Linked DNA regions of Homo sapiens. Changing the gene in region 1 together with any one later gene gives a genetic interaction. Each region holds a gene or a part of one and is shown in the gene's direction. Other genes may lie near its edges.

Evidence for each region.
Region 2: changes in EMC2 (region 1) and MCM3AP together harm fitness more than expected from each alone (negative genetic interaction), as found in Homo sapiens cells (one large-scale study listed by BioGRID).
Region 3: changes in EMC2 (region 1) and MBTPS2 together harm fitness more than expected from each alone (negative genetic interaction), as found in Homo sapiens cells (one large-scale study listed by BioGRID).
Region 4: changes in EMC2 (region 1) and SEC22B together harm fitness more than expected from each alone (negative genetic interaction), as found in Homo sapiens cells (one large-scale study listed by BioGRID).
Region 5: changes in EMC2 (region 1) and CYB5B together harm fitness more than expected from each alone (negative genetic interaction), as found in Homo sapiens cells (one large-scale study listed by BioGRID).

Annotation. Positions count from the first base shown.
Region 1 is NC_000008.11:108,479,636-108,486,059, forward strand, and holds part of EMC2 (ER membrane protein complex subunit 2), read left to right. Parts: intron 1-6,424. UniProt on the Homo sapiens protein: Part of the endoplasmic reticulum membrane protein complex (EMC) that enables the energy-independent insertion into endoplasmic reticulum membranes of newly synthesized membrane proteins.
Region 2 is NC_000021.9:46,233,330-46,239,243, reverse strand, and holds the end of MCM3AP (germinal-center associated nuclear protein), read left to right. Parts: intron 1-2,264; coding exon 2,265-2,415; intron 2,416-2,917; exon of another isoform or gene 2,918-3,020; intron 3,021-3,817; coding exon 3,818-3,976; 3' UTR 3,977-4,111; downstream 4,112-5,914.
Region 3 is NC_000023.11:21,863,617-21,867,116, forward strand, and holds part of MBTPS2 (membrane-bound transcription factor site-2 protease), read left to right. Parts: intron 1-3,500. UniProt on the Homo sapiens protein: Zinc metalloprotease that mediates intramembrane proteolysis of proteins such as ATF6, ATF6B, SREBF1/SREBP1 and SREBF2/SREBP2.
Region 4 is NC_000001.11:120,150,751-120,157,174, reverse strand, and holds the end of SEC22B (vesicle-trafficking protein SEC22b), read left to right. Parts: coding exon 1-137; 3' UTR 138-6,277; downstream 6,278-6,424. UniProt on the Homo sapiens protein: SNARE involved in targeting and fusion of ER-derived transport vesicles with the Golgi complex as well as Golgi-derived retrograde transport vesicles with the ER.
Region 5 is NC_000016.10:69,425,807-69,432,230, forward strand, and holds part of CYB5B (cytochrome b5 type B), read left to right. Parts: intron 1-6,424. UniProt on the Homo sapiens protein: Cytochrome b5 is a membrane-bound hemoprotein functioning as an electron carrier for several membrane-bound oxygenases.

The DNA of each region.
Region 1 (6,424 bases):
TCATGGGAAAACACATCTTTTTATGTCTTTAGCCTTATTTGTCTATAGCCTTTATATTTAAAGGACAATTTGGCTTTTTATATACCCGTTAATACTTTACCTAAGTATCTTAAGCATACTGTTCAGTTTTGTTTTGTTTTTAATATAGACGAGATCTTGCTATATTGCCCAGGCTGGCCATGAACTCCTGGCTTCATGTGATCCTCTTACCTCAGCCTCCTAAGTAGCTGGGACTTCAGGTGCAGGCATCACCATGCCCAGCTATTTCATTCTGTTTCAGAATAAAATGTTGCCGTCAGGAAATATGATGCCGTCTTGACTTACTTTTTATCATAAGTGACTTGTCTGGTTACGCAAAGGAATTTTTTCTTTATCTTTAAAATCCAGTAGTCTTACTATGATTTGTTTTATTGATTATTCTTGGGTCAGTTTTCCCAAATACACAGTACACCCATTTAGTACATCAGTTTAGCCCTTTTATTTGAGAAAAGTTGCTTTTAGAATTACAAATATTTTTTTCTCTGCTTAGTTTTCTTTTTCAGGGTTTCAGTAATACGTGTATTAGACTTCATTTTTCTATGTCCTTTATTCATTTTCTTTCAAATTATTTTGTCATTTTCTGTATTTTATAAAAATATGAATTTGATTCATATTTTTCTTTCCTCCATGTTTAAATGAGGTAGTTTTCCTGGACTATTAGGAGACAATGTTTATGGAATGGCAGGGAGTTGGAGATAGGTTAGGGTAGCTTTCCCAGCTTGGCTATTCTATGGCCGTCTCCTTTTTTGCTAAAGAGAATTCAAATATGACCTCTTTGTATAGCCGGTCTTTCTTAGAACTGAGTATGAATGGCCAGTCTGTCTTAGAACTCAGTGTGACTCAGAAAGATTTTCTGGCTTCAGCCCTCTGTTCTGTTTCTAGAGCCCTCAAAGTCTTGAATTCTGAGGTGTTGCTCTCACTTTAAATGTTACATATTGTTGTTACAGTTTGTGTTTCTTCCTTTTTGTTTTGTTTTCTTCTGGGATTGCTGCCTCTGGGCATCACTCCTTTCCTCACCCCTCCTTGTCTGAACCATCTCTCCTTCTTGCCCTGGTGTTTCTGCCCTGTTCAGTTTGGTTTCAGTTTTTAATTGTTTTTCTTCAGGGTGTGAGGTTTTGTCCTTCTGGAAGAGGATGTTTGCTAGATATTTTAGAAATTTTAAGATATTAGACGGTTAGACTTGTCTAATCTCACATTTATGAGCAGTTTTTTACATTTATCTTTGTTTTGGAGCTTATGAAGACTTCTAGGCCATTGGCAGCTGCATCATCTCAGGTTTTCTTGTTTAGTGGATTAAGAATTCATAATTTGTTTGGTTTTTGGTTTCTTGTAGAGTAGTAGGTTGTCCTCTATTACTTTCTATTCCTCCTACCACACAGTTGTTAATCTTTTGTTGGTCATGCTGCTCTTGATGACATAGTCACATTCTAGGGTTTGGAAAATTGACTGTTACCTAGTTTTTTTGAAAATGTCACCTGTGGGCGTGGGTTCTGTTATGTTGGTTTTGGTGCTGGCTTTTTGTTGTTCGTTTTTGCCCTTCTGGTTGGAGAAAATTGAGAAGATTTTACAAATGTAGTGCCTCCATAATCACATCATTGAAAGTCACCTTTGTGTATTTTTATTGTCTGTTATAGAGCATGTTAGTTTTGTTGGCATATTCTAAGTCAGAGTATTTATAAATATTAGTGAGACTGTGCTTCTTCAAATGCAGTTTGGGATAGCTCAGATCTGTAATGGAGTTCCACACAGAGTAGGCTTGGGGGTGTGTGGGTGTGTGTGATTTATGTAATATTAAAAAAAAAGATTTGTGTAATATAAAAGTAACGTTATGCATACTACATAATTGTTTTTAAGATATGAGAAACAGCTACTCAGAGTGCTTTTTTGACATAACTATTTTAAAATCAATTTTTACTAAATTAATAACATAGAAATAAGAATTATAACAGAAAAAAGGATGCAAGTCATAAATGTGCCTTTCAGTGACTAATATAAGGTAAATGTATCCAGGCTAATAAATATAAACATTGCAGCATCCCAAAGCTCTCTTGGTAAGTCCTCTTAATTTCTCCTTTTGTATTCCTTAAGAGTACTCACTTATAACCCTATAGTTTATGGAATCAGCCAGTATGTATTCATTTTTGTCTTGCATATTTCTATCATTATTCAGTTTATGGGATTTATCCTTGTTTGTGTCTGTAGTTCATTCATTTTCTTCTGTAGTTCATTGTATGAATGTTATAATTTAGTTATTGCTATGCATTTGGAATATTTTCTGTTTGGGCTATTTTGAATAAACTATACTGAATATTGCTGTACAGGTCTTTTGGTGGAATATATGTGCAGTTCTGTATACCTTTGAGTGAAAATATGGGTCATAGAATGTATGTATATTTAACTTTAGTAGTTAAAGGCAATTTTCCAAATTAGTTTACTCCCACCAGCGGTAAGAGTTCTAATAGCCCCACATCTTCACCAACACATGGTTCTGTCAGTCTTTGTAATTACAGCCATTCTGGTACATGTGTAGAGTGGTACTTCATGGTTTTATTTTGCATGTCCCTGATGATCAGTTGCCATTTGGATGTCCTCTTTCGTGAAATGTTTTTCTCATTGGTTTGCATGACTTATTTCTTTAGTTTTTTGCTTATGAGCCCTTTTTTAGTTATATGTATAAGCAAATATGTATAACTTCTTACTTTTTTGCTCATATGATCTTGATGAATAGAAGTTCTGAAATGAAATGTGTTCGAATGCCTCAGTCATTTGTTTGTGTTTTTTGTGTTCTGTTTAAGAAATCTTTTGCTACTCACGGTCATAAAGAATTCTGTGTGTCTTCAGAATTTCTATTCTTTTACTTTTCGTATTTAATCCACAACCCATTTGGAATTGATTTATTTTTAATTTTTAATTTTTATTTTTTTAAGACAGAATCTGGTTGGTTCTGTTGCCCAGGCTGGAGTGCAGTGGCATGATCATGGCTCACTACACCCTCAACCACCCAGGTTGAGTTATCCTCCTGCCTCAGCCTCCCAACTAGCTGGTACTGTAGACGCATGTCACCGTGCTCGGCTAACTTTTAAATTTTTTGTAGAGATGAGGTCCAGCTGTATTGCACAGGCTGGTCTCAAACTCCTGGCCTCAAGTAATCCTCCTGTCTCAGCCTCCCAATGGAGTGCTAGGATTATAGGTGTGAGCCACCGCATCTGGCCTGGAATTGATTTTTATGTATGATGTGAAATAGGGGGTCCATTGCTCCCCATATGGATATCCAGTGTTTCTGTCCATCTTTGTGTTCCATCATGAGTCCCGTCCATGGAAGCTAGTTCAATGTAGTAAAGAGAAGATTACAGATTTGAACCCATGTTGTCTGGGTTCAAATTTTGACTCTGATATAATTATTAGCTATGCAAACTTGGATAAATTACCTAACATCTCTTGCTGTATCTTTTCTTCTGCAAGATGGCCATAATGAAATATTCTGAGAATTAAAGAAATTAAAACATAAGTTATTATGTTTTTCCTTTTCCCTGTCTCTTCAGTGTGACAAGACCCCCTTGAGGTATATTGAGATATAATTTACATGTAATCAAGTGCATATATTTTAAGTATACAGTCTGAGTTTTGACAAATGTGTACATCCCCTTACCAGCCCCCCACTCAAAATAGCATTTCCATCACCCAAGAAACTTTCCTTCTGCCATTTTGCAGTCAACCTCATCCCCCACTGGGAGACAGACAAGCACTGATCTGATTTTTATCACCAAACATTAGTTTTGCTTGTGCTATAACTTTGTATAAATGAGTTCATAGGTTATGTGCTCTTCTGTGTCTGGCTTCTTTCACTCAGCATGTTTTTGAGATTCATTCATTTACAGTCCATTTCATTTTTCCTATTACTTTGTCTACCCATGTATTTTCCACAAATTATGTAAAGGTAAATTTAAGCCCAAGCAAGGTATCTCAGTTATTACAATGCATGAATCACTGACCTCTGAATTTGATAAGCAAGTTTTTATTGTTTGGTTGTTTTTGTGTTTTTTTCTGGTGAGTTTTCTTATAGATCTTACAGAGAATTATGAAAGATTTACTTAAGCAAAATCTAACTGTATGAAAACAAAAATACAGTATTTGTGAATAATGTAAAAGAGTATATAACTTTCAGAGAATGACATTCTTGATAACTAGGTAAATCTTTGGGATCTCAGTGAGAATTTCTTAATCATATCTAGGAATATAAACCGGTATAGAGTATATAATATTTCGTATGGGATTTTTCTACGTATTTATAAATTAGGGAAAATTAGGTTTCAAGAACTGCTTTTCTTTCTTTGTTTCCACTTAATGATGAAACAGAATATGGCTACTATTTGCTCGTCAATTAGGTAATTGGTTTAGCATGTTCAGTAGAAGCAGACACATTTGATTAATGCACATGAAAAACTTTAATGTGAACCTACTCACAATGATTTTCCAGATAAATCCTTCTTTGTTGCACTGGTAAATCTGTGCTAGTGATTTATATGATATTTATGATTGCAGCAGTGATTCTGTTACTATCCTTTTGGGAAACAGAAAATTAAATCATGATTTGAGGGAAAAAATGATTCTGACTTAATCAGTTAAATTGCCATACAATTCTGGAATAGACAGAATAATTGCATGTCAGATTAAATTTGAAGTGATAGATTTGTATTTCCAACTTTCTTTTATTTGTTCTGACACAAGTAAATTTATTTGGTTTATTCTAAATTGCACTGGTTGTGAGTAATGTTGACACCATCTCAGTTGACTCTTTAAAATTAGCTAATTTTAAAAGATCACACTGTATTATTTTTATGTTTAAGTATAAACCAAGAAAAATACTGTATTTAAAAATACATGTTATGGTTTTAGCTCTACATAATTTTTTTTATTTTTACTTTGCTATTTAAAAGCAATTAGAATAAATGTTACGTGGTAATGTTACTATGTGATGTCCTATTCTGTACCCCTCCCCCAACCCATAAAACTTTTTCTCAGAATTAGACCTTTAAGTATCTGATTAGGACCGTTCCTATTTATGTTTCATAAATGGTGGTAAATGAAAAAGCTTTCTGTTTCTGGTAAATCCTTGTGTAAGTGAATTTATTAACTGGATAACAGAAGTAATAAGCATGCCTCACAGCCTTTAGTCCTCAGGGGAAATTATAAAAAGACAAAATTTTAAATGTGATATTGCTGTTACCATATTTAACATATGAATTCCTTAAATTCGTGATGCCTTTTGAAAGGCAAGGTGATCTTGATTTTTATGAGAAGCTTTTTTTCTTTTTCCTCTGGCATTTCCCCTAGAAACATCCTTTATTTACTTTTTCAAATCAGGATTCAGCTACAGAAACTAATCTAATGGTTTAGAGTGTAGGAAGTGAGGGAATCATAATGTTAAGCTGTAGCCAGAGGGGTCAGAGACAGGTTACCAATTCCTGAAGCTTGTTACTTCTATGATGTTACCTGTGTTTGATCACTTAATCTTTCTGAACAGGTCATGAGAAGTTTGCCAAATTAAGTTAATTACAGAAGACAAGAAACACATCATAAATCAAGTACTAAGTGCTTAAGACAGCATTGTTACTTGAAGAAATGATCATTCACTTGAAAATGTATTGAGTGGTTTGATGTTAACTTGAAAACACTAGATGTTGCTAATACCAAGTATTTTAATCATATTTAACCAGGGAGAAAATGGGTAACATATATATATATAAAATATATACATAATATATAATTAATATATATACATATATATAATATATATAGGTAACATATATATATAAAATATATACATAATATATAATTAATATATATACATATATATAATATATATATGTATATATATATACACACACACACACATACACACACAATAAACTTTCTCCCATCTCCATCAAGGAACACTTACTTATCTAGTAAATCTTTTGTTTTAAATCAGACTGATAAATGATGGGAATTGTCAGTCCAGTTAACAAACTCATTTTGAAATCAGCATGTGGTATTCAACAGTGTTTCCCTCCAGCGGTTATGTGTATGATATTGAATTTAATATGCCATGAATTTGCTTTTAAATACACAAATATAGGGTATATTTTGTGTATATATTGATGTATTTATTTTGTTTTCATAGTAAAATCCAATCCCAATTAGTTTTATAATGTAAATAAATTACAATTAATAAAGTAGAAATGCATATTTTAAAACATGTTTACATTGTTTTAATGTGTAGCATAGGTTTTTACTTGACAGCTCTTTGCAGAACCATATCATTTAGTTAACTAATAAATCTGGAAACTTAAAAAAAATTATGAGCTACTTTAAATAATTTTAGAGAGTACTTGCAACTTTAAAA
Region 2 (5,914 bases), on another chromosome or scaffold:
TTTCACCTGCAATCAAAGGCAAACTTTGCAGGGGTGGCCAGGGCCCTGAGTGATCTGCCCCCCATTTCCTCTCTGACCTCCGCTCCTTCCTTGAGCATGGTAGGCAGTTCACAGTTGGGCCTCTGAGTTTGCTGTTCCTTTTGCCTAGGACTGTCCAGCCCCTCCATTCTCCCCAGCATCCCCATGGCTGATCTTGTACTCACTTCAGATCTCTACTCAAATGTCTGCTTCTGTTAGGCCCTGCTTGCCCATCTCCGACCTTCTTGTTTCCATGGCTCTGCTTTGTCTTTCTCATCTTCAAACCATGTTTCTCTTGTTATGTGTTCCTTGTCTGTCTCTCCTCACTAAAGTATAAATTGCTTAGGGCAGGGCCTCTGTTTTGTTTCAGTGCAATATTCCTTGTACCTAGAATGATGCCTAGCATCTGGAGGAGGCTTAATGAATATGTTTTGGAAGGGTGAATGAATGTGTCCGATTACTAAAATCAGTCTCTATAATTTAAGTGGTTTGGGATGAGATTTTTTTTTCCTTTTTATTAGATAGAGTCTCGCTCTGTTGCCCAGGCTAGAGTGCAGTGGCACAATCTCGACTCACTGCAACCTCCACCTCCCAGGTTCAAGCAGTTCTCCTGCCCCAGCCTCCCAAGTAGCTGGGACTACAGGTACCCATCACCATGCCTGGCTGATTTTTGTATTTTTAGTAGAGACGCAGTTTCACCATGTTGGCCAGGCTGGTCTTGAACTCCTGACCTCAGGTGATCCACCTGCCTTGGCCTCCCAAAGTGCTGGGATTACAGGCATGAGCCACTGCACCTGGCCAAGATTGTTTTTCTTGAAAAGACCGGTATATGGAAGTAGACAGCTCTAGAGTATGTTAGGTGGCAGTGGGATATTATTTTGAGTTAATTTTAAGCTATAAGCAGCAATCCACTCATTTGGAAAATGTCAGAAGAATTAATTATAGATGCATAAAACCAAAGTAAATTAAATAAGATAAGCCAAACAAGACAATTACAAGTAATGTTAAGTAACACATCGAAGCAGTTGTTTTTGGATTAATACCACCTTTTTCATTAAATATAAATTGGAATTGGATTTATAAATTAAAGGGAAGTGGTTTCTCTAATTTTTTTTTTTTTTTTTTTGAGATGGAGTTTTGCTCTTGTTGCCCTGGCTGGAGTGCAATGGCGTGATCTGGCTCACTGCAACCTCCGCCTCCCGGGTTCAGGCAGTTCTCCTGCCTCAGCCTCCCAAGTAGCTGGGATTACAGGCACGTGTCACCATGCCTGGCTAATTTTTGTATTTTTAGTAGAGACGGGGTTTCACCATGTTGATCAGGCTGATCTTGAACTCCTGACCTCAGGTGATCTGCCCGCCTCGGCCTCCCAAAGTGTTGGGATTACAGGCATGAGCCACCGAGCCCAGCCTAGTTTTTTTTTTTAAATTAAGCTTTATCATAGGAAGTTGTTAAATTTTTAATAAGTACATTTCTGCTTCTCAGTTGATGTCATAACTTAGTTATATTCTTAGTAAAAAGCAAAGGCTTAAGGCTGGGTGTGGTGACTCATGCCTATAATCCCAGCACTTTGGGAGGCTGAGGTGTGCACATCACTTGAGTTCAGGAGTTGTAGACTAGCCTGACAATACAGCAAAATCCCGTTTCTACAAAAAAATACAAAAATTAGCTGGGTGGCATGCGCCTCTAGTCCCAGGTATTTGGGAGGCTGAGGTGAGATCATTTGAGCTTGGGAGGTCAAGGTTGCAGTGAGCCAAGATTGTAACACTGCACTCCGGCCTGGCCAACAGAGCGAGACCTTGTCAAAAAAAAATAATAATAAAATTGGCCAAGCACAGTGGCTCACTCCTGTAATCCCAGCACTTTGGGAGGCCGAGGTGGGTGGATCACCTGAGGTCAGGAGTTCAAGACCAGCTTGGGCAATATGGTGAAACCCCATCTCTACTAAAAGTACAAAAAATTAGCTGGGCACAGTGGCACTTGCCTATAATCCCAGCTACTCAGGAGGCTGACGCAGGAGAATCACTTGAACCTGGGAGGCAGAGGTTGCACTGACCCGAGATTATGCCACTGCACTCCAGCCTGGGCAACAGAGTGAGACTCTGTCTCAAAAAAAAAAAAAAAAAAATTATATAAAATTTTAAAAAAGCAAAGGCTTAAAAAGTTTTTAAGTATATATAGAAGATTAATGAACAATAGTTAACTTCCTAATGCTCAAATATTTTTGAATTTATTACATATTGTTTCAGGTTTGAAGATCAGCTTCAGCAATGGTTGTCTGAAGACTCAGGAGCATTTACGGATTTAACTTCCCTTCCCCTCTATCTTCCTCAGACTCTAGTGTCTCTTTCTCACACTATTGAACCTGTGATGAAAACATCTGTAACTACTAGCCCACAGGTGAGAAGAACGTATACATTTGGCATTTACATAAGAATTAAAGATTGAGAGAATGGCTGGGGAAAAAAGTAATATCACGATTTATCCTATGATGTTTTGATGACCGACAAATTATTAGCTCAAATTAGACCTTTTCTTAAACTTTATCCATATCATTGTTAAAGAGACCCAACTGATTTTGAGTTTCTGCCTACGAAATAAATGAAGAATAGAATTGAAATATTCTTAAGAACTGAATAAGACCTGTAACTGTGTGCTGATGTGTAATTAAGGGCATTAAGGTGATGACAGCAGCTTCTGTTGGAGCACATATTGTCTGAGCTTTGGCATTACCCAGACCTCTCTTCTGGGATTAATTTTTCCTGAGGAAAACTAATGAATGAGGAAGGTAAGCTCCCAGAAGTCAAGAGCCTCACCCAAGAGTGTTCAAGTAGTGAGTGGTCAGGTTGCTTTTCAAAGCCAGATCCAACTGGCTCCAAAGCCTAAGGTCTTTTTACCTTACCATTCTTCCTTCAGTGGTTAAAGATGCAAAAACAGAGTTTCAATCACAGATATGTGCCACTGAACAGGTAAAAACTGTGCTCCTGGACTGGCTTTAGGAAGTCCTTCAATAGAGGAGAAAAGCAAATTAAAATGATGTACTGTTTCCATTCATCAGTTTGGCAAATACTTTAAAAATATTCATACCCTTTGAATTACCAATTCTAACCTAAAGAATTCTGACCTACCAGATATTCCCCAAAAATTAATGTATAAAAATGTTTACTGTAGCATTATTGTATGAAAGTCGAAACAGAATAAATATCCGAAGATGGGAGTCTGATTAAACAATTATAACACATTCATGTGATAGAATAATTCACAGCCCTTGACGATGATATTTTCTAAAAATGACTGGCTGGGCGTGGTGGCTCATGCCTGTAATCCCAGCACTTTGGGAGGCTGATGAGGGAGGATCGCTTAAGTCCAGGAGCTTGAGTCCAGCCTGGGCAACATAAAGAGATCTCATCTCTACAGTACATAATTAGCCAGGCATGGTGCTACATGCCTGTTGTCCCAGCTACTCAGGAGGCTGAGCTGGTAGGATCACTTGAGCCCAGGAGTTTGAGGCTGCAGTAAGCTCCGATCATACCACTGCGTTCCAGCCTGGGTGAAAAATGACTGACACTGGAAATTGTTCATGATAGAATACAAAGGCAAACAGTCTATATACAGATACCAGCTGAATGTACGAGCTAAATGAGGCTGGAAGGATATACAAAGGATAATTTTTTTCCCTCTGTAAAAATAAATGACTACTCAGATGAGGTTTCTAACATGATCCAGATCTAGTACCTTCCCAGAGATAGGTCGTGGTTTATTGACATCCCAAAACTGTTCAGTTTCTTTTTTATTCAAATAGAGTGACATGATGAGGGAGCAACTGCAGCTGTCAGAGGCGACAGGAACGTGTCTAGGCGAACGACTAAAGCACCTGGAAAGGCTGATCCGGAGTTCAAGGGAAGAGGAAGTTGCCTCTGAGCTCCATCTCTCTGCGCTGCTAGACATGGTGGACATTTGAGCAGCCTGACCTGTGGGGAGGGGGTCTCTCCCGAAGAGTTTCTGTTTTTACTCAAAATAATGTTATTCTCAGATGCTTGATGCACTGTTGGAAATGTGATTAATTTAATCATGCAGATAAACCATTTAAATGTCAGTCTCCCAGTTTTTCATAATGAAAAGTTGTTTCCCCTGTGTGACCTCTTCAATATTCTCCTATATTCATGACCTCCTCAGATTGTCACCCACCAGCATATGCTCTGAGGCAGTTTAGAGCTTACATTTCCATGTATAAAAGGCGATTCATTCTCTCAGCAAACTTGCAGTCCTTGATGTGCCAGACATCAGTGATGCAGAGATAAAGTAAGACACAGGGCCTCTGCCTGCTAAGCCCACCCAGCTTACATCCAGGAGAGTCAGGTACTTATGTACATAATTCTCAGAGAATGTGCATGAGGCGTGGGCCTGAATTGGTAGCAAGGAAAAAACAGAGGATGGAACAGGGTCTGGTTGGGTAGAGGAGAAACAGAATTCCCGGAGAGGAGTGCAGGGGTGTAGCTGGAGACAGTGTACTTGAGAGGACATGATGAAAGCGTGGAGGTACCAGCTTGGTTGTGTGGCCAGGTGAGGGGAACAGGCCAGCAGGGTGAGGTCAGAGATTCTTGTCACCTTCTTCTGAGAGCTGTGAGAACCCGTTGTTGAAGATTAGGCAGAGAAGTGATCTGGTCACATTTTCTTTTAAGAATGGCATGTAGGGCAGGAATCTTGAGAGGTGGGTGCTGCAGCCATCCAGGTGAAATTCAAAGGGAATAAGCGTGAGTTTGTTAGCAATTGGTGTGAAGAGAGGGGATAAAATTTGAGCCATATACAGAAAGAGGTATTAATAGACTTGGTGATGTTGCGTATGACCACCAATCTTAAACTGGCACTCAGCATCTCCTGACTGTAATCCTACATCCCCAGACTCTATTTCATGTCTTCTCATTCTCTTCAAACCTCCAACATTCTTAGATCATGTCCTCCTTATTTCACTGAGAAAACAACAGCACTAAGAAGAGAACCTCTTCCTCCACCAAATCAATCCCTGCTTCTCCAAACACACACTACTCAACTCAGGGATCTTTAGTGATTAGCTTCATGTAAAGACTTAAATAATGCTATTTCTTAATCTTGACTTGACATTGTTGACTTCCTACAATGGAAGAGGAGTTAGCTTCTCTTACACTGTCTTTCCCACAACATATTATCACCCCCACCCTCGACACCCACATTTCCTCTCCTATTAGTCTCCCTAAGCAGTTTGATATTGGCTGAAACCTGCATTCACAGTTTAGTATAACTGTATGTTTACCATTTCCTGTTGAGCCCTTTATTGGTTTATGATTACATTTCCTTTAGGTACAACTTTTGATTTTTCCTGGAGTTAATTACATTGTTTTTCTCATTTGCTTGGTTTTCTATGCTCTTGTCACTACTTTACCCAAAAGTCGCTGCCCTAAATGTAAAGCTCTTCCCAACAAAGTCATGTGCATCAGGTAATATGCTCCACTTTCTCTTCGAGATGTTCCTGAGAACCCCCTGTCTTCTTGCCATAACTTGGACATTTCCTGGATTCTGAATCATATTTTCCTCTTGCTTGGTTTTCTCTTCTTGATGGAGCCTGTCCTTTAGTAGCCTCCTGAGCTTGAATATCTAAAATGTCTTTATTTCTACTGTAATATTATCAAATATATATCTGGTCTTTGTCTCTGCCTTCTGATATACAACTCCTAAAATCCTTGAGATCTCTAAAGTGATGTCTTTTTGTATGCTAGTAAGATGACTGATGGCGGACAGCTCCTATGTAGCTTCAGGATAGGGACTGGACATCTGAAAGACCAGGGCATGATTAGAGGGGTTGAAACTTTCAGCCCACCCCCCAAACTCCCAGAGGTTGGGGGAGAGGGACTGAAAGTGACGT
Region 3 (3,500 bases), on another chromosome or scaffold:
TACTGAGACTTCTTTTTCCTTAAAATTGACACCTAATGTCCAAAACTAAGACTAAAGAAGGTTATATATATCCCCACCAATAATTGGGTCCACGCACCTCTTTCAGAGCTTATTAAATGGTATAGAACTAACTAGTCCCGCTATCCCAAACATCACCTAGCCCATTAACTTCTCATTCCCAGTTGTGAGTTGTCAGCCTAGTAGACAGCTGAACAGCTTTGCCCTGCCGTCTTTCCCAGGCAAGGGGGCAAGGTTAGGGGTGGGGAGGAGATGCTTATCTTGCCCTGAATTCAAGACAGGACAAATTCAAAGATCTGGAATTGTCTCTAAAAAGAAGAGTTTAGTATCCCTGCTAAATGTTTGCTGAGCTGTGAGCTCACCGTGGTGTAGCCATCAAAGTGGAAGACAACGTGGGAAACCTGTGTGTTCCTCAAAGTTTAGGGATGTACATAAATTATGTATTTAGAGGGAGAGAGAAATATGTGTGTACCCTCTGCCTACTTTATTGGTTTTAAATTTAGGAATATAATTTCATTGCTTCTAAAATGTCTTCCCACTTCCATGTAAAAAGTCCAGGGTGTCATTTAAATCTAGTTTTTTGTTTTGTTTTGTTTTGTTTTTTGTTTGTTTGTTTGAGACGGAGTTTTGCTCTTGTTGCCCAGGCTGGAGTGCAATGGCACGATCTTGGCTCACTGCAACCTCCGCCTCCTGAGTTCAAGTGGTTCTCCTGCCTCAGCCTCCGAAGTAGCTGGGATTACAGGCACCTGCCACCACACCCAGCTAATTTTTTATGTTTTTTTAGAGATGGGGTTTCACCACGTTGGCCAGGCTGGTCTCGAACTCCTGACCACAGGTGATCCACCCGCCTCAGCCTCCCAATAAATCTAGTTTTATAATGCTACTTTTAAAGAGTTGCATATATAGGCCAGGTGTGGTGACTCACGCCTTTAATCCCAACACTTTGGGAGGCTGAGGTGGGCAGGTTACTTGAGCTCAGAAGTTTGAGACCAGCCTGGGCAACATGGCAAGATTCCGTCTCTACTAAAAATACAAAAAATTAGCTGAGCATGGTGGTGCATGCCTGTGGTCCCAGCTACTCAGGAGGCTGAGGTGGGAGGATGGCTTGAGCCTGGGGGGCAGAGGTTGCAGTGAGCAGAGATTGTACCACTGCACTCCAGCTGGATGACAGAGTGAGAACTCTGTTTCAAAAGCAAAATAAGTTGTATATGTAATAGGTTTTTTTCTTTTTTTCTTTCTTTCTTTCTTTTTTTTTTTTTTTTCTGAGACAGGATATCACCCTGTCACCCAGGCTGAAGGGCAGTGGTACAATCACCGCTCACTGCAGCCTCGACCTCCTGGGTTCAAGTGATCATCCCACTTCTCAGTCTCCCAAGTCGCTGGCACCACAGGTGTGCACCACCACACCCAGCTAATTTTTGTATTTTTTGTAGAGAGGCGGGTCTTGCCATGTTGCCCAGGCTGGTCTCAAACTCCTGGGTTCAAGAGATACAACCACCTCGGCCTCCCAAAGTGCTGGGATTACAGGCATGAGCTAGAGCTACCACACGGGGCTATTTCTTTAAAAAAAAAAAAATGAAATATATACTGATTTTGAAAAGAAAAAGCCACTAAACATCTGTCTGAAATTTGGTGGGGAAAAAAGAGAGATGAGATGAGATACTTCCTGAGCACACTGTAAATGAAGATGTTTAAATTTTGAATTATGGTGTATAGAATTTTTAGAAGAGGGATTAAACAATACCTGCTATCTGGTTCCAAGTGAAGAGTAGATTGCTTTAAAAAAATTCTCTATGCTTTGTTGCTAAAAATTCCTTTATAAATAGTGGAAGTAAAATTTGACCATTCTGTTTCTATACTTAAATGTTTTTAAATCCTTCTTAAATATTGAAAACCCTGTTCTTATTTGTATAAGCCAGTTGTAAGTTTATTTGAGGGCAAAGTAAAAAACATTGGTGATAAAAGTGATGTTGTGATTATAGTAAGCTGGAATTTAAACTTAGAACACAGTGTAAGCCTTGCCAAATTGATAGTTTACATTCTTTCAGCTATAACTACTGTGAGTTATTCAAGGAATATTGAGTTGTTATTTTACCTATTCAGTCATCTGGTGACCTGTAAATCATTTCTGTGTGTTTAGAGAATTAAGGTAGTTGTGGTTTTTTTTTATTATTATTTGCAAACCACACTAAGCATAAGTAGGGCTTGATTGGGGTAGCCCTTAGCCCCCGCTTAATAATAATCACCAGCTTCAAGTCTATGGGTATCTTGCTGCCTTGATGACAACTATAGATTTTCTTCTCCCTTGACCCATGATTTTTGTTTGTTTGTTTGTTTTGTTTTTTTGTTTCTTTGAGACAGAGTATCTTTCTGTCACCCAGGCTGGTCTCAAACTCCTGGTCTCAAGTGATCTGCCCACCTCAGCCTCCCAAAATGCTGGGATTACAGGCATGAGCCACCGTGCCCGGCCCCATGATATTTTTAAACCCTGAGTCTCCCATATTCTGATTTTTCTACTGTTGCCCCAGTCTCATTGCTTAGTATATAAACCAGAATAAAATTGATCCTCAATTCCATCTAAGTCCTACTGTTTCTTGGCTGTTGTTTTATTAAAATCATGAAGAAAGCAAAAAAGGCATTCCATCACAACTATTGAAAAGTGTTCTAGAAGTTACAGTCATTGCTATAAGACCAAACAGGAAGGAAAAGATGAGGTATGAATGTTGGAGGAGATAAATGATTATTATTAGCAAATAATGGAAAATCCAAGAGAATAAAGACTAAGACATCCTAAATGGAAAGTTCAGTTTGGTGATTAATTACAAAGTAAATATACAAAAATAAATGTAGTATTCCTGTGTATCTGAAAGAAACAGATCATGTAATAGGAAGAAAAGATCTCATTCAGAAAGTAATGTGACATATAAAAAATAAAAAACTAACATTTTAAAAGAAGTACACAGGGCCTATATAGAGAAACTACAAATCTGTACTGAGAGATGTAGAAGATTTCAGTAAACAGATGTCGTGTTCCTATGTCAGAAATGTAAAATTATGGATTTACCCCTAGTTATTGCAGTCATTGCAGTGACATTAGAAATCCTAATGTGGGCCAGGCGTAGTGGCTCACACCTGTAATCCTAGCGCTTTGGGAGGCCGAGGTGGGCGGATCACTTGAGGTCAGGAGTTCAAAACCAGTCTGGCCAACATGGTGAAACCCTGTCTCTACTAAAACTACAAAAAAATTAGCCGGGCGTGGTGGTGGGCGCCTGTAATCCCAGCTACTCGGGAGGCTGAGGCAGGTGAATCACTTGAACCCAGGAGGCAGAGGTTGCAGTTAGCTGAGATCTCGCCACTGGGCAACAGAGCGTGACTCTGTCTCAAAAAAAAAAAAAAAGAAAAAAAGAAAAAAAATCCTAATTTGAATAATATTTGGTGGTTGTCAAAATGATTCTCAAATTTATCAGAAAGGATAAGGGGAG
Region 4 (6,424 bases), on another chromosome or scaffold:
ACAATTTGTCCAGTCTGTCCAAGAAATACCGCCAGGATGCGAAGTACTTGAACATGCGTTCCACTTATGCCAAACTTGCAGCAGTAGCTGTATTTTTCATCATGTTAATAGTGTATGTCCGATTCTGGTGGCTGTGAAATAATGAATACAGTCACTGGTAAGGGAGAACCTAGAACCCAGTAGGTGTATATTTTCAGGAAACTGAGCTCACAGAGATGTGTATTAGAATCCAAGTGGAACTTCTGCCTCTAAAGACCTTGCAAGAAAAGAGATGCCCTGAAAATGAAAGGTTGCACCTCATTTAATGAAGCTTAACCCTATGTAGAAAGTCTCTTTCGGGGGCAGAGGCTTTCTCTGGGTGCCAAGCCATATATATTAGGGAATAGTAGATTGTTAATTTCGTTTTTTCCCTCCCAGTGCATTTTAAAAACAGCACTGGCTGGGGCATTCTCATTCTCTGATGGAGCCATCAATGAGATTTAACTTAGTCAACCTGTGCTAGCAACATTCTGAAATTCCTTCAAAGAAGGCAGTCCTTTGGGAAGGTGTTTTTTTTTTTTTTTTTTTTTTTGACTCTAATCAACATTCCTTTTGTTGGTGACATTTGTGATTTTCAGTAATCTGAGTTTTTGATGGCCTTTTAAACAAGACTCCAGTATGTGAAGGTTAATTGCTGTGCTCCACAGATCTTGTCTATTGGCCCCTGTAGAAAGTTAACCTTTGTTGTTTTCCTTTTATAATTTGCTTATTGCACAATTGCTTTAGGGTAAGTGAATTATATTAAGATGCCTTGAAATTATAGCACTCCTTGATTAAGAAGCTAAAATGTTTCTCTCATTTACTCCTTAAACAAAAGACTTAAATTAGTTTGGGTCATTATTACTTTTATTTTGCAGCATTTGGTTTGTTATTAGCGTAAGAGCAAGTATAGGATATGGAGAGGCCCCTGGCTTCATGAGAACAAAGGCAGGCCCAGGTTATAATTACAGCTTTCTCCTGCCCCTTCTTTACTTTCTCTACCACAGTTTTCTCCACTGTTTGTTTTCCTCTTGCCACAATTTGCTAACATTTAAAAAATTTTCCTGCACCCAGTAGTTTCATATCCTGTAGACATCCTCTTAGGACATTCTCAAATTTCAAAATAAAAAATATTCATCTATGTAGTTAATTAAAGTTAAAGTTTTTGCAGATCAACTACTCAAACTACTAAATACATTTACCTGAGAAAAAGTCTCTGAGAGCACTTCATTCCTGTTTTAGTTCGTGTAAATTCTCTGAGAATGTTCTGGAGATAGATAACTCATTTACAGTGGTTTCTATTAACTAATTAAAGTACCCATGATTTTTTCCTTTTCTGCTCAGGGATGATGGAGATTTCCTTTTACCTTCTGAGGTAGAATTTTTTAATGGGGAAAATAGGCCTTTTAAATATTATTGCCAGGGTCTGCAATATAACTTAAAATTCCTGTACATACTGCAAATATTTCTTTAAATTGCACAGGAAAATGAGCGAACTTTTTATTTCTTAATATCTTTGGCAAAAAACTTTAACCAGTAAGCAATTTTATAACCCTGAGGGATCATCAAAGATACTATCCTGATTCCTGGTAAGGAAAAATATATTATTTCCTTATAACAAGGCAAGGAGAAATGCTATTTTATTCCTGATAATTTATATAACTAGAATAATTTTTTTCCTTTCTTTTATGGACCTAAATCTGCCAATTGGGAATTTTGTGCATGAAATATGAAGTTACTTTTTATAGATAATCAGTGCTTTTAAGTCCCTAAAAGGCTCCTGCTGAAGTAATGATGATGTTAATAATAAAAGCCTTTGAAAGGCTGAAAACCTACATAGTGGTACCATAGTATTTGGAGCTTCTATAGGAGTGGAGAGGGGCAGCTCATTGTTGAGAGTTGCATGCTGCAACCTAATGGTCAGCAATGAAATAAATACTTGTAGAATGTTCACTTCAGTGTGAAGTTTTGTTATCTAGTTAATTTATATACATATATCCTTTGTAGATACATTTCTATCTAATCTTGTTGGGCTAATTAAGAAATAAGGGGTGGGGTAATTGTCAACAAAGGGAGAAGAAAGTGGTTTAAGATCAGGGCAGCAGAAAAATTAGAGAACAAGAATATCATAATATGGCTCCTGGTTTTCTTTATAAGAGGCAGTGGGAAGATCTGACTAGATGAAATGTATCATCAACCAAACTGGCATCTAAAATAGAATGGGATAAATACTGTATGGGGTTATTGGAGGCATATTAAGAAAGGACACCTAATTTATTTTGGGAAGAAGTATGTTAAGAGAAGACTTTCTAGAGAAGGAGAATGGGGCATTCTAGGAAGAGTCAATGGCATGTGCAAAGGCATGAATAAAGACAGTGAGGCATATTTTGGAAATGTAACAGCTTGATTCAGCTTAGCCCATAGGGTAAGCATAGACAACAGAGGAGACTTGAGGAATGAGAACTAGATGGGTACACTATCATAAAGGGACTTGTCTATCATGCTGAGGAGTTTAGACCATCTTAATGGTAGTGGCCAAGGATGGCATCAGATTTATAGTTTCAAGTGATCATAATATTGGCATAAAAGATATATTAGGGAGGAAGCCTGAAGTAGGGAGATGAAAATAAGGAGCCATCAAAGGCAGAATGAAACTTAGGCAGATTTCAAGTGATTTTCAAAAATGTTGTGATCAGAGGTACCAGATAATAACTATTACATAACACTTTCTTTGTTAGGAGCTTATTTCTCACACTGACCAAAGCTTTTGAAGTAAGTACTCTTTACACCACTATATAAATAAACCTTACAAAGGATTCTGCTTTGAGGCATGAGAGAGTTAAGTCATTTGCCCAAAGTCACAGAGTTAGAAAGTAATAGAGCTAAGATTTGAACCTAGGCAGTTTGGCTCCAGAGTCTGTGCTCTTACGCTATATTACCACCAAGAGGTCAAATAAATACCAAAGAATGTATTTTCGAATTTAACAATGAGGAACTTAATCATACAGGCAGAAGTAATTCCAGAGCACTGGAGACAGAAGCCAGATTGCCATATGGGTTAAAGAGTGTGTAAACCACTAGGAAGTAAAGACATAGAACTACTCTCACAAGTGCTTTTCTGGTTATTGTGACGCTGAACTTCATGGCTTGTTTTAATTAAGACATCTTACAAGTGTCAAAATTTGGAAATATTTGGACACTGTACACTCTGGTTATTTAAATATCTAACAATGGTTCTTGAGCATTTTGAGAAACCTTTGAAAATCTGATGAAAGGTATGTGCCATTACTCTAGAAAAATGTTCCTGTGTACATGCACATCAAGTATCACATACTGTTTCAGGCTGTTCAAAGACTACAAAGTCTGTTCATGACCTAATGGTCCATGTTCCCTCAGTTAAGAGCTCCAGAGATAAAGGATGTGGAACTCAAAGGTAAGTACCCAGAGCCTTGAAAACTCCATCTGTGACTTGGAAGAATTCTACAATTTGAATTAACTTTGTGGAGAGAGATATATTTTTGAAAAATTGTGTGTACCAAAAAAATTTCATATCAAATAATATTTTCCTGTAGTGCATTCAAGGATCTGGTTCCACAGCAAAAAATTGTTTTGGTCTCAGTTCCTCAAAATCACATTTAAGGAGCTTGAGATTTATATTTTCTACTTAATAAGTCTTACAAAAGCAAGTTAAGAAGGAAAATGGACAATCATTTCTGCACATATAGGGTTTAATAAAACATGTATAATAAAATATCTCATATTTTAAATTTCCACCTTATTGGTAGCTTTCATGACAAAGGGCTAGGGTGCTGATGGCCATACAATTAAGGTTTTTGGTTAGTTAGTTAGCAGAACTAACTGACTCCTACCTGGTGGGTTTTTCTTTTGTTTGGTTGGTTGGTTGGTTGGTTTTTTCCCAGATGGCTCAGGAGGAAGGTAAATAGCAGTCATTGTATGTGTGACAGAGTTTGAGATAGAATGAGCATATTGAATCTCACATCCTATTCTTATTACTGTCAGGCAGCGTTGACCTAGCAGTATAAAACTATCTGAAGCAATGTAGTCACTCAGTTCTCATAAAGTTTATTTCAAGTACTGTAACAATTCATGTTTGGATTAGAAAAGTCACTAGAAATTTGACTTCCATATAGTAATCTATACTTTTTTCTCTCATTTCCTTCATTTTTTGAGCCGTAAGTGTAAGGCATTTTGCTGGTATTATTACAATGGTTATGAGGAGTTTCTTTGCTTGCCCAAGGTCACATAGCTAGCAAGTTAAAGTAGATTCAAATCCAGGCCTGCTAGATACCAAATTATTATTTAAGAGTACTTTTCACTACTCCTAAATAATGACACAGATACGTTTGTCTTACACATTTCACTTTATTGTCAAGTTATTAGTATGTTTATTTTCAAAAGTTATTTTTTGCAATTTCTTTTTATTATTCCGTACTTTTTAAATTTACTTCATTATCACGTCTTCCTTTATTCTTTTTAAATAGTTTTTGCTTTTGTTATTTTGTTTTCCCTTTTTTACTCTTGGTTTGTAATACCTCTTTCCTTATTTGCTCCTTTCTCATTTGATCTCAATGTTAATCCAACTGTTTTCCACATCTGATTCACTAAAATTTTAGCCCTTAAAAAAAAAATTCCTGTTTTTCCTATCTCCTTTTGTCCATTCTCTTCTCCTTGCCTCACTTCTTTTATCTTTTTCCATTTTACTTTCATTTTTTGTTTCTCTAGATGTTGTTTTGACATATGAGTTAATGTACTGGTACAATTTTGCATCTGTAAATTAGAGCTTCAGAATCAACTGAGTGTATTTATTCTTTATTTTTAGGCCTAAATTTATCTTACCTTTTATTGATTTTATAATATACTATACTCTTTCATTTTAGTCTGCATATGTTAGCCAAAGAAGATATGCCCCTGTTTTAAGAAATCTCTGTAAAAAATGTCAAGTGTGACAAGAATTCTTCAAGAAACAAGCTCCTCTAGTTTGTCTTCTATATTTAGAGCTTCAACAGTTACCTATATTACTGGTAACTCCCAAATATACCTTCAAACTTGTTTTTTGGGCCCAAGTTTTTTGCTTCATATATATCTGTTTTGAATATCCCATAAATAATTGCATCTAAAGCATACCTCCACTCCATTGTTCTCAAAGATAAAACCAAACCTGTGCTGCTTCTTATATTTCTAGTATTTAAGCGTCACCTGCCACCCCTTTACCTGAGCTACAAGTCACGCATTGCATTAGACTCCTCTGCTTTCTTCTTTCACCTCTAACTAGACTATTAACCAAAAATTTTTTAATATAACTTTCAAAAGGTATTTTATTACATCATTTCCATCCTTTATGTTTGGGTTCAAGCCCTCATTAACTTTAACATGGATTCTTGGAGTACCCTCCTTACTGATTTTGTTACACATGTCCCTCTTTTAGTCAGTACTACCATGATAATACCATGGATAATAATTTTTTCATTTTTATTTTTAGTCTTGCTCTGTCGCCGAGGCTAGAGTGCAGTGGCGCGATCTCAGCTCACTGCAACCTCCACCTCCCGGGTTCAAGTGATTCTCCTGCCTCAGCCTACTGAGTAGCTGGGATTACAGGCACCTGCCACAGCTCCTGGCTAATTTTTGTATTTTTAGTAGAGATGGAGTTTCACCGTCTTGAACTCCTGACCTCATGATCCACCCTCCTCGGCCTCCCAAAGTGCTGGGATTACAGGCATGGGCCACTGCGCCCGGCCAATAATTTTTGTGTGTGTGTGTGCTAATCATACTACATTTTCTTTAGAATAAAAGATCACATACTTGTTTGCCATTCGCAGTCTGGCCCCATTGTGCCATTCTAGACTTACCTCCTGCCACTCCCCACCAGCTTTGTTTTGTCTTAGCCACACAAAATAATCTAGCGTCTCTAACCAGTCAAACATTTTACCTTGTGCCTTGGCTCACTCTGTGCCTTTTCTCCAGAATATCTTTCTGTGTACTTTTCTCCCATCCTTTTACCTTTAAACCTGCTGCTATGGTTTGCATGTTGTTTGGCCCCTCCAAAACTCATGTTGTAGTTCAATTGCCAATGTAATAGTGTTGGGAGATGGTACTTTTAAGAGGTAATTAGGTTGCTAAGATGGATTAACATCTTTCTCTTGACACTGAGACTGGGTTCTCCTGGGAATGGTTAGTTCCCAAGAGAGTGAGTTGTTATAAAACAATGCTGCCTCTTCTATTTTGCGCTTTTTGTTTGCACAAACTCGGTCCCCTTCTGTTTCTCTACGATGTTTTGATGCAGCATGAGGCAGTCATGAGAACCCACCAGATACAGCTGCCTGATCCTGAATTTCCCAGCCAACAGAACCAAGTGCTAAATAAAACTCTTTTTAATAAGTTACCCACT
Region 5 (6,424 bases), on another chromosome or scaffold:
AAGCTTTGATTTTCGGTTTGTGTGTGATCATTTTATTTTGAGCAATAGATTAATGACTTGTGAAAGTTCACTTCTATTTCTCTGAAGCAAATATACTAGTGAAATATTTTTTCGATTAATTTGGGGCCTAAAAGAGAAATCTCTGCATCCTGACTTTTAATTCTAAAAACTTTTAAAATTTAAAAGTTTCCCCCAAAGAACATTATTTTTAATAAATCTTAATAGTGAACAATAATTTAACAAACTCAGAATTTACTAACTTCTTGCATTTGTATGGTGTATGGCATTTTATGCTTTTAAAAGTGCTTTCCGGTCGGGCGCGGTGGCTCACGCCTGTAATCCCAGCACTTTGAGAGGCCGAGACGGGCGGATCACGACGTCAGGAGATCGAGACCGTCCTGGCTAACACGGCGAAACCCCATCTCTACTAAAAATACAAAAAATTAGCCAGGCGTGATGGTGGGCGCCTGTAGTCCCAGCTGCTCGTGAGGCTGAGGCAGGAGAATGGCGTGAACCCGGGAGGTGGCACTTGCAGTGAGCCTAGATTGCGCCACTGCAGTCCAGCCTGGGGGACCCAGCGAGATTCCATCTCAAAAAAAAAAAAAAAAGTACTTTCCCGGCCAGGTGTGGTGGCTCACGCCTGTAATCCCAGCACTTTGGGAGGCTGAGGCGGGCGGATCACGAGATCAAGAGTTCCAGACCAGCCTGACCAACATGGTGAAACCCCGACTCTACTAAAAATACAAAAATTAGCTGGGCCTGGTGGTGGGCGCCTGTAATCCCAGCTACTCAGGAGGCTGAGGCAGGAGAATCACTTGAACCTGGGAGGCGGAGATTGCAGTGAGCCATGATTGCACCACTGCACTCCAGCCTGGGCGACAGAGCGAGACTCCAAAAAAAAAAAAAAAAAAGCTAGTGGAGGGTGACTTGGATAGTAGTGATTTTTTTTTTTTAACAGAGGTACAAGTAACAGGTTCAGAAAGATCCTGGTCATACAATCAATTAGTAGCAGATTTGACAGATCCCTTGATTTCTCTTGTCTGCATAGCATTACTTCAAAATTCTAGCCTTAGCTATGACTTCTGGTATTTGCTTCATAGTAAGTTTCATGCTAAAGCATGGTTCATAATGGGTAGAAAATCAAGTTTTTTGGCTGGGCGCAGTGACTCATGCCTGCAATCCCAGCACTTTTGGAGGCACAGGCGGGCAGATCACCTGAGTTCAGGAGTTCGAGACCAGTCTGGCCAACACGGCGAAACCTCGTCTCTACTAAAAATACAAAAATAAGCCAGGCTTGGTGGCACCTGTGATCTCAGCTACTTGGGAGGCTAAGGTAGGAGAATCGCTTAAACCTGGGAGGTGGAGGCTGCAGTGAGGTGAGATGGTGCTGCTGCACTCCAGCCTGGGTGACAGAGTGAGACTCCATCTCAAAAAAAGAAAAAAAAAATCATGTTTTTCATTTGTGGTTTTATTTCCCTCCATTTTTTTTCTTGATTGATTCAGAATAGATGGTGAGCTTGGAGGGAACACTCAGCCCTTACAGAGAGCATTAATTCAGTCTCAAGTAATAGTTGCTAACCTGTTTCTTTCTTTTTTTTTTTCCTCTGTGAAGATTCCAGAAGTAACTAACCTGTTTCAACCACATGCTGATATAGCCAGAGACATCACTAATGTGCCAAGGTTTCTCTTGGAGCTTGAGCTGCAGCTCTTTACCTGCAGTTTTGTTTTTTTTGTTTTGTTTTTTGAGACAAGGTCTTACTTTCACCCAGGCTGGAGTGCAGCTCACTGCAGCCTCAGTCTCCTGGGGTCAAGTGATCCTTCTATTTCAACCTCCCGAATAGCTGGGAAAAGGTGTGCACCACGACGCCTGGCTAATTTTTAAAATTTTTTGTAGAATTGGGGTCCCACTGGCTGGGTGTGGGCTCATACCTGTAATCCCAGCACTTTGCGAGGCGAAGGTGGGCAGATCATGAGGTAAGGAGTTCCAGACCAGCCTGACCAAAATGGTGAAACCTCGTCTCTACTAAAAATACAAAAAAATTAGCTGGGCGTGGTGGCACACACCCGTAATCCCAGCTACTCAGGAGGCTGAGGCAGGAGAATCGCTTGAACCCGGGAGGTGGAGGTTGCAGTGAGCCAAGATGGTGCCGTTGCACTCCAGCCTGGGCGACAGTCAGACTCTGTCTCAAAAAAAAAAAAAAAAAGAATTGGGGTCCCACTATTGCCCAGTGTGGTCTGGAACTCCTGGGCTCAAGGGATCCTCCTGCCTGGGCCTCCCAAAGTGCTGAGATTACAGGTGTGAGCCACTGTGCTCAGCCTAATTAGCTATTCTTATTTATTCTGTTTTCTTGTTCATTCCAAGCCTATTCATTCATTCACTTATTCAAATATTTATTAAGCCTTTACTATGTTCTAGACACTGTTCTAGGTGCTGGGGATTTAGTAGTGAATAAACAGCTATGCCCTCATGGAGATTACATGGCACAGGAGGCAGACGATAAGCAGAGTAAATAACTAAAATATATACTACATTAGGTAGTGGTAAGTGCTAAGAAGAAAAATAATACAGGGGGCTGGACACGGTGGCTTAGGCCTGTAATCCCAGCACTTTGGGAGGCCGAGGCGGATGGATCATGAGGTCGGGATTGAGACCATCCTGGCCAACATGGTGAAACCCCATCTCTACTAAAAATACAAAAATTAGCTGGGCATGGTGGCATGTGCCTGTACTCTCATCTACTTGGGAGGCTGAGGCAGGAGAATCACTTGAACCCAGAAGTTGGAGGTTGCAGCGATCCAAGATTGTGGCACTGAACTCCAGTCTGGTGATAGAGTGAGACTCCGTCACAAATGAAAAAAAAAAGAAAAATAATACAGGGAAGAGGACTGTGGAATATTTATGTGGTGTGAGGAGGAGGGTTTGAAATTTTAGCGATGGTGCCGAGATAACTTTATGAAGATGACTAAGTAAAGGCCAGGAGCAAAGTAAAGGAGCTAGCCATGAGGGTATCTGTAGGAAGAGCATAGAGCATTCCTGGCAGAGGAAACAAGTTCAAAGGCCTTGAGATGGGAGGATGTCTGGTATGTTTGAGGAACAGTCAGGGAGGCCACAGTGGTTGAATAGTTGCACATGAGATCAGAATGATCAGGGGAGGACAAATCATGTACAACTTCACAGGTTTTAGGAAGGACTTTGGCTTTTATTCTGAGATGGGAAATCATTGGAGCAGAAGAGTGACATGATGTGACTTAATGGCGTAATAGGATCGTTCTGACTACATTGTTGTGAAAGACTGAAGGAAGAGTGTGTCTGGAGTTGGTTCCTTCCGGTGGGTTTTTGGTCTCTCTGACTTGAAGAATGAAGCCATAGACCTTCGCGGTGAGTGTTATAGCTCTTAAAGGTGGCACAGACCCAAAGAGTGAGTAGCAGCAAGATTTATTGTGAAGAGTGAAAGAACAAAGTTTCCACAGTGTGGAAAGGGACCAGAGCAGGTTGATGCTGCTGGCTGGGGTGGCCAGCTTTTATTCCCTTATTTGTCCCCGCCCACATCCTGCTGATTGGTCCATTTTACAGAGTGCCGATTGGTCCATTTTTACAGAGTGCTGATTGGTGCATTTACAATCCTTTAGCTAGACACAGAGTGCTGATTGGTGCATTTTTACAGCATACTGATTGGTGCATTTACAATCCTCTAGCTAGACACAAAAGTTTGCCAAGTCCCCACTCCACCCAGGAAGTCCAGCTGGCTTTGCCTTCTTAAGAGGACAAGGGCAGAATTGAGGAGACCAGTTAGGAGGCTGTTTTAGTAATTAGGCAAGAGATAGTGGGTTGTACCAGAACAAGTGTCAGATTTTGGATGTGTTGTGATGGAAGAGCCAATAGGATTTAATGATGCGCCAGATTTGGGGAATGAAAGAAAAATGAGTCAAGGATAACACCAAAGTTTTTGGCTTATGAGTCTTCAAGAGTTGGGTTGCTATTAGATGAGAGAGGGAAGATTTACATTGGTATTCATCCTTCTCTTTCCAATCTGATGTCACTTTGGGGCCCCTCCTTTAGCAAGAGGTTCCTAATCTTAAGTGTCCTGTGTCTGTAGCTTACCATTTTTTTGATTAATGACTGGTTAGAGTATGATACTGGAGTTTGAATGTGGTAGTTTAGAATTAGTAATATAATTGAATTGTCTTTCCCTGGCAGATTAATTTTGCATTGTTTGAATCAGTGCATTCATGAGTTGTTGAAATCATGAATGAAAGTAGTACATGTCATTATCTTTCCACCATTTAGTAGTTTAGAAAAATCACATAAAAATGATTGTAATATCTTATGACATTGATAGAAAATATCAAAGTGCATCTCTCTTATCAAGGGTAAAATTTTGTGAAACTTTGTTCAGTTATATATAATGTATTTTTTTTTCTTTTTTTTGGAGACAGTCTGGCTCTGTTGTCCAGGCTTGAGTGCAGTGGTGCCATCTTGGCTCACTGCAGCCTCTGCCTCCTGGGCTCAAACAATCCTCCGCCTCAGCCTCCCAGGTAGCTGGGACTACAGGTATGTACTACCACACCCTGCTAATTTTTTTGGTATTTTTTTTGTAGAGATGGGGTTTCATCATGTTGCCCAGGCTGGCCTCAAACTCCGGGCTCAAGTGATCCTTCCGCCTTGGCCTCCCAAAATGTTGGGATTACAGGCATGAGCCACTGTGCCTGGCCTATAATATCTCATGTATATGGTGTTTATTGGATTGCAGTGTAAAATTATTTCCTTACTGGGTATTACAAGTGAAAATTTGGAAGCCATTGACTTGTGTATAAATAGTCATTTGTCAAAAGAGTAACTTGAAATAACATTGTGATATTTTAAAACTTTTTTTTTTTTTTTTTGAGACAGAGTTTCACTCTTGTCGCCCAGGCTGCAGTGCAATGGCATGGTCTCAGCTCACTGCAACCTCTGCCTCCCAGGTTCAAGTGATTCTCCTGCTTCAGCCTCCTGAGTAGCTGGGATTACAGGTGAATGCCACCATGCCCGGCTAATTTTTCTATTTTAGTAGAGATGGGGTTTTGCCATGTTGGCCAGGCTGGGCTTGAACTCCTGACCTCCGGTGATTCACCCGCCTCGGCCTCCCAAAGTGCTGGGATTACAGGTGTGAGCCACCATGCCCAGCCCTATTTTAAAGCTTTATATGTGTATTTATTTATTTATTTATTTTGAGATGGAGTCTTGTTTTGTCGCCCAGGCTGGAGTGCAGTAGCATTACCTTGGCTCACTGCAACCTCTGCCTCCTGGGTTCAAGCGATTTTCCTGCCTCAGCCTCTGGAGTAGCTGGCACTACAGGTCCCTCCCACCACACCTGGCTAGTTTTTATGAGATGGGGTTTCACCATGTTAGGTAGGCTGGTCTCGAACTCCTGACCTCAAGTGATCTGCCCACCTTGGCCTCCCAAAGTGCTGGGATTACAGGTGTGAGCCACGGCACCGGCCTATATGTGTTTTTAGAAACTGTCACCATAAATGAGAATATTACTTTAGGAACCATCTCATAAATGGGATAACATTTTATTAACCCAACAAATATTTGTTAAGTTCTATATAGTAGTAGGCCCTGGTGGTGTATAAAAATAAACATAAACATGGAACCCCAGCCTGGGCGACAGAGTGAGATTCTGTCTTAAAAACAAAACAAAGCTGGGTGCAGTGGCTCACGCCTGTAATCCCAGCACTTTGGGAAGCCAAGGTGGACAGATCACTTGAGCTCAGGAGTTTGAGACCAGCCTAGGCAACATGGCAAAACCCCATCTCTACAAAAAATACGAAAATTAGACGAGCATGGTGGCATGAGCCTGTAGTCCCAGCTCCTCAGGAGGCAGGGGTGGGAGAAGGGCTTGAGGCCAGGACATCGAGGCTGCAGTGAGCCGAGATAGCACTACTGCACTCCAGCCTGGGTGACAGCGAGACCCTGTCTCCAAACAAACAAAACGAAAATATCCCATGATACTGCCTTCTTGAAGCTACCATTCTAGAGGAGTCAAAACAAAAACAGACAGATGAAATAATTTTAAATTATGGCACTTTTATGAAGAAAACAAATGAGTTGAGAAAGAAAAATCAGGAAAGATTTAATTTAATAAGAGTGATCTGGGAAAGCCTCTGTGAGAAGATAACATTTAATTGAGCTGATGGTCATGAACCTGATTTGGAAAGAATACAGAAAAGAGCATTCCAGCAGCATTTGAAGTCAAGCAAGAGTTTGGCACATTAGTGGGACTGAAAGAAGCTGTGTCTATAGTGAATGAAGGACAAGAATGGCCAGAGAGCTAGGCGGGACCCAGGACATGCAAGGTCTGGTAGGTAGTTTGGATTTGATCCAAAAGGTAATAGAAAACCACTGACATGTTTGAAGATGAGGGATGACATTGAAGCAATT